Linked DNA regions of Homo sapiens: region 2 is linked to region 1. Evidence: fine-mapped expression QTL. Tissue or cell type: whole blood. Region 1 holds a variant in brackets; the other region holds the start of a gene. All regions are shown on one strand. Distances are between the middles of the regions.

Region 1 (5,148 bases):
TCCCACCTCTGCTTGGACTACCTCATTTGCTCATATGCAAACATTATTTGGTACCTACTGTGTGTGCACCATGGGATGGGCCTGCCTCTGTGGAAAGTTCTTGGGTGCAGGGGGAGACAGCCATGGGCACTGATGACATCAGGTAGTTATCGTGAGTTTTGGCGGTGTCCAGAGCAAAGGGATGGTGGCGTATATACCAAGTGTGTTCTGGTGTGGGGGTGGACACGCACCAGGGCTAGGGCTGCAGAGAATGTCTGTGTTGCAGATCTAGGTTTCTCCATGATCATCGGTGGGAATGTGTTTTGTCTGCAAGTGTATGCTCATATGAGTTTCCCTGGGTCTCTGTGTGTCAGTGTGTTACCTGTGTGTGTGGGGGTATGGGTGTATGCATGCATGTATGTAACATGCCCATGTGTGTTACTCTGGACTTGTATGTCTGTATGTATACCTAGATTGGCGTGTGTTCTGTCTGTACATGCCCTCGTATGTTTCCTCACTTTTGTGTGTGTTTATATGTGTGTCATTTCTTGTGTGCCTCCAGGCCCCCCTTGCCACCTTGGGCAAGGGTGTGTACACCACCCAAGTGTCCACCTCCGCTTGTCTGATGCTGTCTGTGACGCCCCCGCTCTCTGCCTAGCTGAGCCTGTGTGGATGTGGGAGACTAATCTCCCCGCGGGCACTGCGTGTGACCTCACCCCCCTCTGTGAGGGGGTTATTTCTCTACTTTCGTGTCTCTGAGTGTGCTTCCAGTGCCCCCCTCCCCCCAAAAAATGCCTTCTGAGTTGAATATCAACACTACAAACCGAGTATCTGCAGAGGGCCCTGCGTATGAGTGCAAGTGGGTTTTAGGACCAGGATGAGGCGGGGTGGGGGTGCCTACCTGACGACCGACCCCGACCCACTGGACAAGCACCCAACCCCCATTCCCCAAATTGCGCATCCCCTATCAGAGAGGGGGAGGGGAAACAGGATGCGGCGAGGCGCGTGCGCACTGCCAGCTTCAGCACCGCGGACAGTGCCTTCGCCCCCGCCTGGCGGCGCGCGCCACCGCCGCCTCAGCACTGAAGGCGCGCTGACGTCACTCGCCGGTCCCCCGCAAACTCCCCTTCCCGGCCACCTTGGTCGCGTCCGCGCCGCCGCCGGCCCAGCCGGACCGCACCACGCGAGGCGCGAGATAGGGGGGCACGGGCGCGACCATCTGCGCTGCGGCGCCGGCGACTCAGCGCTGCCTCAGTCTGCGGTGGGCAGCGGAGGAGTCGTGTCGTGCCTGAGAGCGCAGCTGTGCTCCTGGGCACCGCGCAGTCCGCCCCCGCGGCTCCTGGCCAGACCACCCCTAGGACCCCCTGCCCCAAGTCGCAGCCATGAACTACCTGCGGCGCCGCCTGTCGGACAGCAACTTTATGGCCAATCTGCCAAATGGGTACATGACAGACCTGCAGCGTCCGCAGCCGCCCCCACCGCCGCCCGGTGCCCACAGCCCCGGAGCCACGCCCGGTCCCGGGACCGCCACTGCCGAGAGGTCCTCCGGGGTCGCCCCAGCGGCCTCTCCGGCCGCCCCTAGCCCCGGGTCCTCGGGGGGCGGTGGCTTCTTCTCGTCGCTGTCCAACGCGGTCAAGCAGACCACGGCGGCGGCAGCTGCCACCTTCAGCGAGCAGGTGGGCGGCGGCTCTGGGGGCGCAGGCCGCGGGGGAGCCGCCTCCAGGGTGCTGCTGGTCATCGACGAGCCGCACACCGACTGGTAAGCCACTGCCGCGGACGTCTCCCGTGGGCCTGGGTCCCCAGATCGTTCTTCTGCGAATGAGCAATTATCGAGCGCCGCTTGTGTGCCTGACACCTGGCCCTCTCACCTAAATCTTTTTCCTTTAAATTATTAAGCTGGATGCTTCCTCTGTGCCCCGCCCTTGTCGCCCCCCTCCGCCCCTTAAACCTTGATGGATCCAGGGAGCAATTATCAGGCACCTGCTGCGTACCTGTTCCCTACTACCCCTCCCCCAAAAGTCTTTGGCTTCAATATATCCTATGAGCCTTCGAAAACCGAACGTGTCCTTCCTACCCTCCCCAACCCTTGCCCCATAGGCCTTGTCCTCTAATGGATCTTGTGAGCACTTATCTAGTACCTGCAGTATGCCTCATCCAAGAGCCCTTCCCCAAGGCCTTTGATTTCAATGAGGTTTGTGAGCATTCTTTGAGAGCCTGATACTGTCCTGTTCTCCTCAACCCTTGCCCTGAGGCCTTCTCTAATGGGTCTTGTGAGCATGTGTCCAGTCTATGCTATGTGTCCCACCCCAGCTCCGTCCTTAAAGCCCTTTTAAACTATTTAGTAAACATTGAGTACCTGCTGTGTATCCCACCCCAGCTTCTCTCCAAAAGCTTTGCCTTTCATGGATCCTGTGAGTTTTGATTGGATGCCTTCTCTGTGCCCCAACTCCAAGCCCTCTCTCTGAGGGCCTTTTCTCCAAAGGATCTAGGAAGCATTTGTTAAGTGCCTGATACGTGCCGCACCCCCAAACCCCTTCTCAAACAAATCATTTTCCTCCAGTGAGTTCCATGAGCAGTTTTGAACCTTCTTTGTGTGACTCATCTTCAGACCGTCTCCTCAAAGACCTTTCCCTACAGTGGATCTAGAAAACATTTATTGAGTGCCTCTTGTATCCCCCGTTCTCCAGCTACTTCTTCAAAGACCTTTCCTTTGGTGGATCCATCTAGCATTTATCAACTGCCTGCAGTGTGAGCCTTCTCTAAAAGTTCTTTCCTCCAGTGTATTCAGCAAGCATGCATTGACTGGTGCCTGCTGTATACCCCACCCTCAAACCCTTTCTGCAATACCCTTTCCTCCAGTGGCTTCAGTCTGCATGTATTGAGCACTTTCTGCATGACCCAACCTTAGACCTCTCCATAAAGGCCTGTGCCTCCAGTTAATACAGTGCTCAGATATCTGGCACTTGCTGTGTGTACCATTCCAGTCACTCTTTCCAAAGACCTTTTCTTTTAATCACTCCTTGGAGTATTTATGGAGCACCTGCTGTGTACCTGATTGTGTGCCTTCTTCACAAAAGCCTTTTCTCCTATGGATGAAGAATCGAGCTCCCATAGATCAACTTTCTGCACTCCCATTTCCCCTCCCCATAGGACTTTTCCTTCAGGGATGCAGTGAGCCTTGATCAGGTGACTATATGTCCATCCCCAGCCCCACTCCCCAAAGGCCTTTTCTTCTAATGGATCCAGTGAG[C/G]ATTTATTCCTTGTCTGTCATGTGCTCCATTTTAATCATCCTCCCCCAAAGACCTTTTCTTCCAATGGCTCCCCTGAGCATTTATGGAGTGTCTTCTGTGTGTTCTGTATATTCACACCTCCTCCCCAGAATTGTTTTCTTAACAGTAGATCCAGTGAGCACATATGCAGGACCTGTTGTTTTGGGGAGTACATTCTTCTTCCTTACCCCTAGGAGAGCCTGTTCCAATCACAAGGCCTCTCCCAAGGTCCTTTCCTGTGATAAATCCAGAGCTGAGTTTATAATGATCACCCCTTTCCCACTCCCTTCAGTACCCCTAGGATTCCCTCTACCAACTTTAATTCATACCCCCAAAGGGCTTTTAGTCTATTTAAGTAACACTTACTTAAGTAAACACTTTTACTTAATAGTTTTACTATTGACTTAATTTACTAAATAAATTTAGTAAATTTACTAAATTTACTATTTACTTAATAGTTTTACTATTTAAGTAAACACTTATTGAGCACTTACTGTATAAGTCACTTTCAACTTCCTCTTTCCAAGTCTCTGGAAATCCCTGACCCTGCCTCAAGAGCTCTCTCTCTAGGGGTCTACTTCAGCCTAAATGTATTGAGTACCAGCTGTTTACTGGTTAGATTACCTCTCCCCCAGGAGCCTTTACCGAGTAGCCTTTCTCTCCATTCAGAGCAATTTATTCATTCTGCAGATATTTATTGCATCCTTTCCATGAAAGTGTGGGAGGCATTTATTATGCACCATTATATACTAGGAATAACCCTTCTTCAGCTCCCCTTCCTTCTTTTTTTTCTAAATGCAGGTGTGCTTGAAATCCTCACCTGCCAGCTGGCCTTGCTATACCTTTTCCTCCATGCAACCCCACAATCATTTAATGAGCATTTATCGTATACTACTGAGAACCCTGCGTTAAATGCCTCTTCTCCCCTTTTTGTAGTCCCAATTCCCCCTTCAACAATCTCCATCCTGCCTTTTACACAACACAATCCTGAAAGCTCACAATGTGCACTGTTTTCCATTTATTCTAGCTAGGCCTCTTCCTCCACTTAGTAGCCATCTCCCCAGCTGCCTTTTTCTCCCCGAATTAGTCCAGAAAACACTTATTAATCTCTTACTGTATTATTTTCAAACAGCCACATTATCATCCCTGCAGCAGGCTTCTCCGCTTTTTTCTCTATCAATCTGTAAAGCATTTATGGAGCACGTGCTGTAATTCCTTCACCAACGTCCACTCACCAACGTGTTATCTTCCTGGTTAAGTTTGCTCCATTGAAGTCAGCAAACATCAATGAGGCCTCTGCTGGATATAGGTAATCACCCTCCTTTAGACTTCCGGTCTCCACTCCAGCCCTCCATGCAGGTCCTTTGCGTCTGCTTCCTTCTTTCCATCAAGCATTTATTATCTATGGAATACTGACAAGTCCCTTCCCCTTTCCATAATCACAAATTCAATGTTTTCCATTTTTTCTTTGTCCAGAAAACATTTATTGAGCACCTGCTGAATTCAGTGAAAGATCCATCCCTTCCCCTTCTGCATCTCAGAAGCCCCCCTTTATCCCAGCATCCCCTCCAGTCTTTTCTTCCAGGCAATCTAGCAAATATTTATTTAGTGTCTACTATATGTGGGGTGGGGTGGACAAAGGGACAGAGCCTATGTATGTACGCCAGGCTCAGTGTGGGGAACAGAGACCTGTTTTACCAACTTGCAGACACTCAGAACCACACTAGCTTCAGGGATTTCAGCCCCAAATAAAGCAGGAGTTGTGCAAACTCTGTGATGGAATGTACACCGAAATACAGTCTGACGCCTTTTCCACCAAACCTCACCACCCTCATTCCTTCCTGGGTCTCAATTCCTCTGTGGTTTAAAGTTGAAAACTCTAAGTTGAGACTCATCTCCC
Region 2 (5,148 bases), 36 kb after region 1:
AATGCTGGGAAAGAGGCGGGGGCAGGGGATACCTTGGTCATCTTGATCTCATAACGCTGGTATAAGGTGGTCTGGTTGACTTCTGGTGTCCCCACGAACTTGGCCCTGATGACTGCAGGAGAGGAGGGAAATATGAGTCAAATGGACTGCATGAGCCAATAAAAATAAGATCATCATCATCATCATCATCATACCAGCAAAGCGCATACATAAATAGGGGTTATTGGATGCCAGACAGCACACAAAGTGATTTACACATTTGTTCATTGATTCATCTGTATGTTGAGTGTCTCTCTTTGCCGGGCACTGCTTAAGCCATTTTCATACATTGATTTGTTCATTTACTCCTCAAATATTTGGGAGTGCCCACTGTGTGCCAGACATTGTTCTGGGTGTTAGGGACACAACAGTGAACAAAACACAGAAATCCCTTTCCTTGTGGAGTTCACATTCTAGCCAGGAGGAGACAGGCTAAGAACAAACAAAATAAGGATATGGAATGTTAGACATTAAGTATAATGGGGAATTACAGACCTGGGTAAGGGGCTGACAAAGATTCTTTGCTTGACCAAACTTTACTCAGGCTCCTGAACCTCCTCCTAGGCCCATCTGTGCACTTCCTTGTAAAATCCAGTTTTAGCCGAGAGCCTTGCTAAGTCAGTTTAGCAAGAACCCCTATATTCTATATCTGATCATCCTCAATCTCTGATCATCCTCAATACCTGATCATCCTCAATCTCTGATCATCCTCAATACCTGATCATCCTCAATCTCTGATCATCCTCAATACCTGATCATCCTCAATCTCTGATCATCCTCAATCTCTGATCATCCTCAATACCTGATCATCCTTGCTATCTGACTGGGTTCTTCATCTTCCACCATCCCCCAGGTGATGTCTGATTCCCCTTGGCCTGCCTTCAGCAAGAATCCTGTTACGTCGGTTTAGCCAGAATCCCCCTTACCCCTGATGTTTCTTCTTAGTAATTTCCACCCACAGACCCTCACACTGCTCCTTAGCTACACATTCCCACTGGCCCATGCTATATTCAGTGTTGAGCCCAATCTCTCCCACCGACTGCAAGATCCCATTGCAGTGGTTCCTATACCCATCACCATGGTCCTGAATATGGTCTTCCTTACTGTGTTATAACAAGTATCACTGAATATTTTTCTGTTTAACAGGAGATCAGGAGTACTAAGGGGCAGGGGTTAAAATTTTAAACAGGATGGCCAGGGAAGGCCATCCTGAGAAGGTGACGTTTGAGGCAGCCACCCATGTGGATACCTGGGGGGAAAGTGTACCAGGCAGAGGGAGCAGCCAGCATGCAGATCCTGTGGTGGGCTTGGGCACAGAGTACTCAAGGAAGTGTGAGGATGCCAGTGTGGCTAAAGCAGAGGAAGTGCAGGGGCGAGTGGAATCATTCTAGAGGTAAGTGCCATGGTGAGCCCCACTGGACTGAAAGGGAAACCAAGGCAGAGTGTGTGGGCTGAGTGGGGTGAGGACTCACCGAGGTCGGAATTGCAGAAGGCCGTCTGTGGGTGGGGTGGGACACAGGTGCAGGCCCTGCTGGGGGCTATCAGCCACAGCAACAACAGGATGCCAGAAGCCAGGGGCTCAAAGGGGGCCATGGTGGGTTCTGTGGGGAAGGGGGATGTCAGGCAGGCCCCGGCCCAGCTGATCTGCTGACCTGGGCAGGTCATCCACCCCATCTTGCCCCGGGGCAGCCTATGGGGGGGATTAGGGGGCTGGATTTGGGCTTGAGGGGTTGGTAAGCTTAGGGATTTTAAGGGGATTGGGGAGCGCAGAGGAATTTAGGGTTTAGAGAGTTGGGAGAGTTTAAATTATTGAGGGACTGAGTGAGTTGCGGGGTTATGGGGTTGTGGCACTTGGGGGAGAAGGGGGCTGAGGAAGTTTGAGGAATGAGGGGATTGGGGAATTCTGGAGGTTGAGGAGTTTGGGGGTGAGGAATTTGGGATTGGGGGCTGGAGGAGTTTGGAGACGGCAGAGTTTAGGGGTTGTGTATATTAAGAGATATAAGAGGCTGGGGGAATTTAGGGAGGTTGAGGAATTTGGAGGAGGTTGGGGGTTTAGGGAGCTGGGGGAGTTTGGAGGTTGAAGGGGTTGGGGGAATTTGGGGGCTTAAGGCAATGGGGATACTTGAGGAATTTGAGGGCAAAAGAAGTTTGGGAGCTGGGGAACTGGGGATTGGGGAGCTGGGGGAGTTTAGGGAGCTGCAGGGGTTAGCGGTGGGTATTTAGGGGGCGATGAGGGAAATTTCGGGATGAAGGAATTTGCGGGGGGATTTGGAAAGCATTTGTGATATTAGGGGGTCATGGGTTTGGGGGAATTGGGGGCGGATGTCAGGGGTTCTAGGGAGTTTGGAGCCTCGGGGTTGGGAAAGCAGTTCCAGCCTCCGACCCTCTTCCCCCTAGACTAGCCCAGGGTCCTGGTACCCGCAGGCCAAGCTGAGTAGACAGGCATCTGGCACGGGAGTGCACGGGCCTGGTGGCCAGCACCCAAGCTGCAGCCCAGCTCCGGTCCCTGCTGGGCCACCCCGGGCCCTGCTTACCTCTGGTGTCTCTCTGGGCGCTGGATCTGCGGCGATGGCGGCAGGGCCTGAGCGCTAGAGGATAAATGTCCACGCTAGGGGCGGGGGTGGCAGCGGGTGCGGAAACCACAGGCCTCCAGGCTTCCTGGATGCATTACTCATCCACCCACCATCAGTGCAGAAGCCAAGGGGCGGGCCGACGAAAGGAGATACACCCTCCTCCTCTCCCACCCGCCTCCTCTCCCTCTCCCTGGGCCTCGCCCGGGCCAGCCACCTCCCCCACCTCCACGTCAGTCACTATTCCTTCCAAGCCGCCTCAGCGGAGAGCTTAGAGGCCGCATTTCCCCCGGCCCAGTCCCCTAAAGTCTCCAGAATCTATCCAATCACCCACATCCCCCAAGCTCCCTATGACTCAAACCCAAATTAGTTCAGCCCTTCAACATTTATTGTGCATCTACTGTGTGCCAAGCACACAAAAATCCCTTGTTTTGTATGTCTGACATGCTGGTGAGGGGTGGCAGAGAGGAAACAAATTAAGTAGCAGCAGTGGAGGGAGATAAGGCAGGTGAAAGGGGAGGAATACAAAATGGGGAAACTGAGGCACGGAGTGGTTAAGTGACTTACCCAGGATCACAGAGTCAATACATGGCAGAACTGAGACTGGAACTCAGGTGGCCAGGAGCCAAAGCCAGGGTCTCAAATAACACAGGCAAATAGCCGGCATTTATACAGCACCTACTGTATACCAGGCACTCAGCATAGTTTATCTCACTCAAAGCTCACAACAAATCTCTGAGATGGGTACCGGTTCTTATTCCCGTTTTACGGATGAGGAAATATGGGGCGTAGAGGAACTGTAGAATTTTCCTAAGATCACAGGGCATGGCCGGGATTCAAACAGAGGCTACCTGGCACCAGGGTTGTAACTCAGGAGTGGCACCGTCCTAGCAAGCAGGGAATGGTGCGGGTGAATGAATGAGCATTGGGAAGGGGGTGGCCATGAATGATGGTGAAAGAAGCAAGTGAGTGGGTCAGTAGAAAACTAATCCCCACCCCATCCTGCCCTGCCCCCTCCCCATGGACCTGTACCCCTGGTGGGGGGTGGGGTGGGGCAATCCTTGCCCACCAGCTTTCTGACAATGCAGGAACCTTCCCTGGGGTTCTGATTAACATCCTTAATTCGAGGAGGATAGATCAATAATAATAATTGTAGTGATGATGGCAGCCACTTATTGAGCACTTTCTGTGTACTATGTGCTAAAGTGTTTGTATAAATTATCTCATTCACTCACCATACTCCCTTGCTAATTAAGTTTGATTAACTCAGGGATGATAGCCCAATAACAAGAACACAACAAAAACTACCAGCAGCCCTTATGGAGTGCTTACTGCGTATCCAGCACTATTCTGGGTGGGAGGAATGTGAGGGATGAGAAATTGCCTAATGGGTACAATGTACACTATTTGGTTGATGGGGACACTAAAAGCCCAGACTTCACCACTATGTAATATATCCATGTCACAAAACTGCAGCTGTACCCTCTAAATCTATTTTTTTTTTTTGACAAGAGTCTTGCTCTGTCACCTAGGCTGGAGTGCAGTGGCGCGATCTCAGCTCACTGCAACCTCCGCCTCCGGGGTTCAAGAGATTCTCCTGTCTCAGCCTCCTGAGTAGCTGGGATTACAGCCACACCACCACCACCCCCAGCTAATTTTTGTAGTTTTAGTAGAGACGGGGGTTTCACCATATTGGTCAGATCTCGAACTCCTGACTTCAGGTGATCCACCTGCCTCGACCTCCCAAAGTGTTGGGATTACAGGCGTGAGCCACCACACCCGGCCTTCTAAATCTTTTTTTTTTTTTTAGACAGAGTTTCGATCTTGTTTCCCAGGCTGGAGTGCAATGGCAAGATCTTGGCTCACTGCAACCTCCACCTCCTGGGTTCAAGCAATTCTCCTGCCTCAGCCTCCTCAGTAGCTGGGGTTACAGGCACACGCCACCACGCCTGGCTAATTTTTGTATTTTTAGTAGAGACGGGGTTTCACCATGTTGGCCAGGCTGGTCTCAAACTCCTGACCTCGGGTGATCCGCCCACCTCAGCCTCCCAAAGTGCTGCGATTACATGCGTGAGCTACGGCACCCAGCCTAAATCTATTTTTTAAGAAAGCACTTGGCCGGGCATGGTGGCTCACACCTGTAATCCCAGCACTTTGGGAGGCTGAGGCAGGCAGATCGCTTGAGCTCAGGAGTTCAAGACCAGTCTGGGCAACATGGTGAAACCCTGTCTCTATTTAAAAAAAAAAAAAAAAGCACTGTTCTAAAGTCTTTTTACAGACATTATCTCATTTAATCAATCCCGATTGCCTCTTTGTTCATTAATGTTAGTTAAGGAAGAGATGTTAAGCCAATAATAAGAGTACCCAACACTTCTTGAGGATCGAGGCTTACTGTATGCCCGATACCATGTAGAGCATTTTTCCCAAAATAACTAACTTATTTCTCACAATATCCCTGTGAGTTAGATATAGCTCATGTTCTCATTATACAGATGAGGAAACTTAGACACAAAAGGGCTGAGTGACCTACCCAGGAATG

What was found. PIP is the estimated chance that this variant, and not a neighbour inherited with it, causes the effect.
Region 2: it holds the start of TIMP1, and the variant in region 1 is fine-mapped to the expression of TIMP1 in whole blood (TOPMed, PIP 0.93).

What each region holds. Positions count from the first base shown.
Region 1 is chrX:47,615,942-47,621,089 of GRCh38, reverse strand. It overlaps SYN1 (synapsin I), which reads left to right and starts at 1,233. Exons shown (of 13, transcript NM_006950.3): 1 at 1,233-1,738. The coding sequence starts at 1,362. RefSeq lists silencers at 1,010-1,219, 926-1,220. The variant C/G (reference allele first, on the strand shown) is at 3,230.
Region 2 is chrX:47,579,900-47,585,047 of GRCh38, reverse strand. It overlaps TIMP1 (TIMP metallopeptidase inhibitor 1), which reads right to left and starts at 2,612. Exons shown (of 6, transcript NM_003254.3): 1 at 2,574-2,612; 2 at 1,512-1,640; 3 at 33-112. The coding sequence starts at 1,632. All of the region lies in intron 5 of SYN1 (synapsin I), which reads left to right. RefSeq lists silencers at 2,655-2,754, 2,815-2,964 and a cis regulatory region at 5,082-5,148.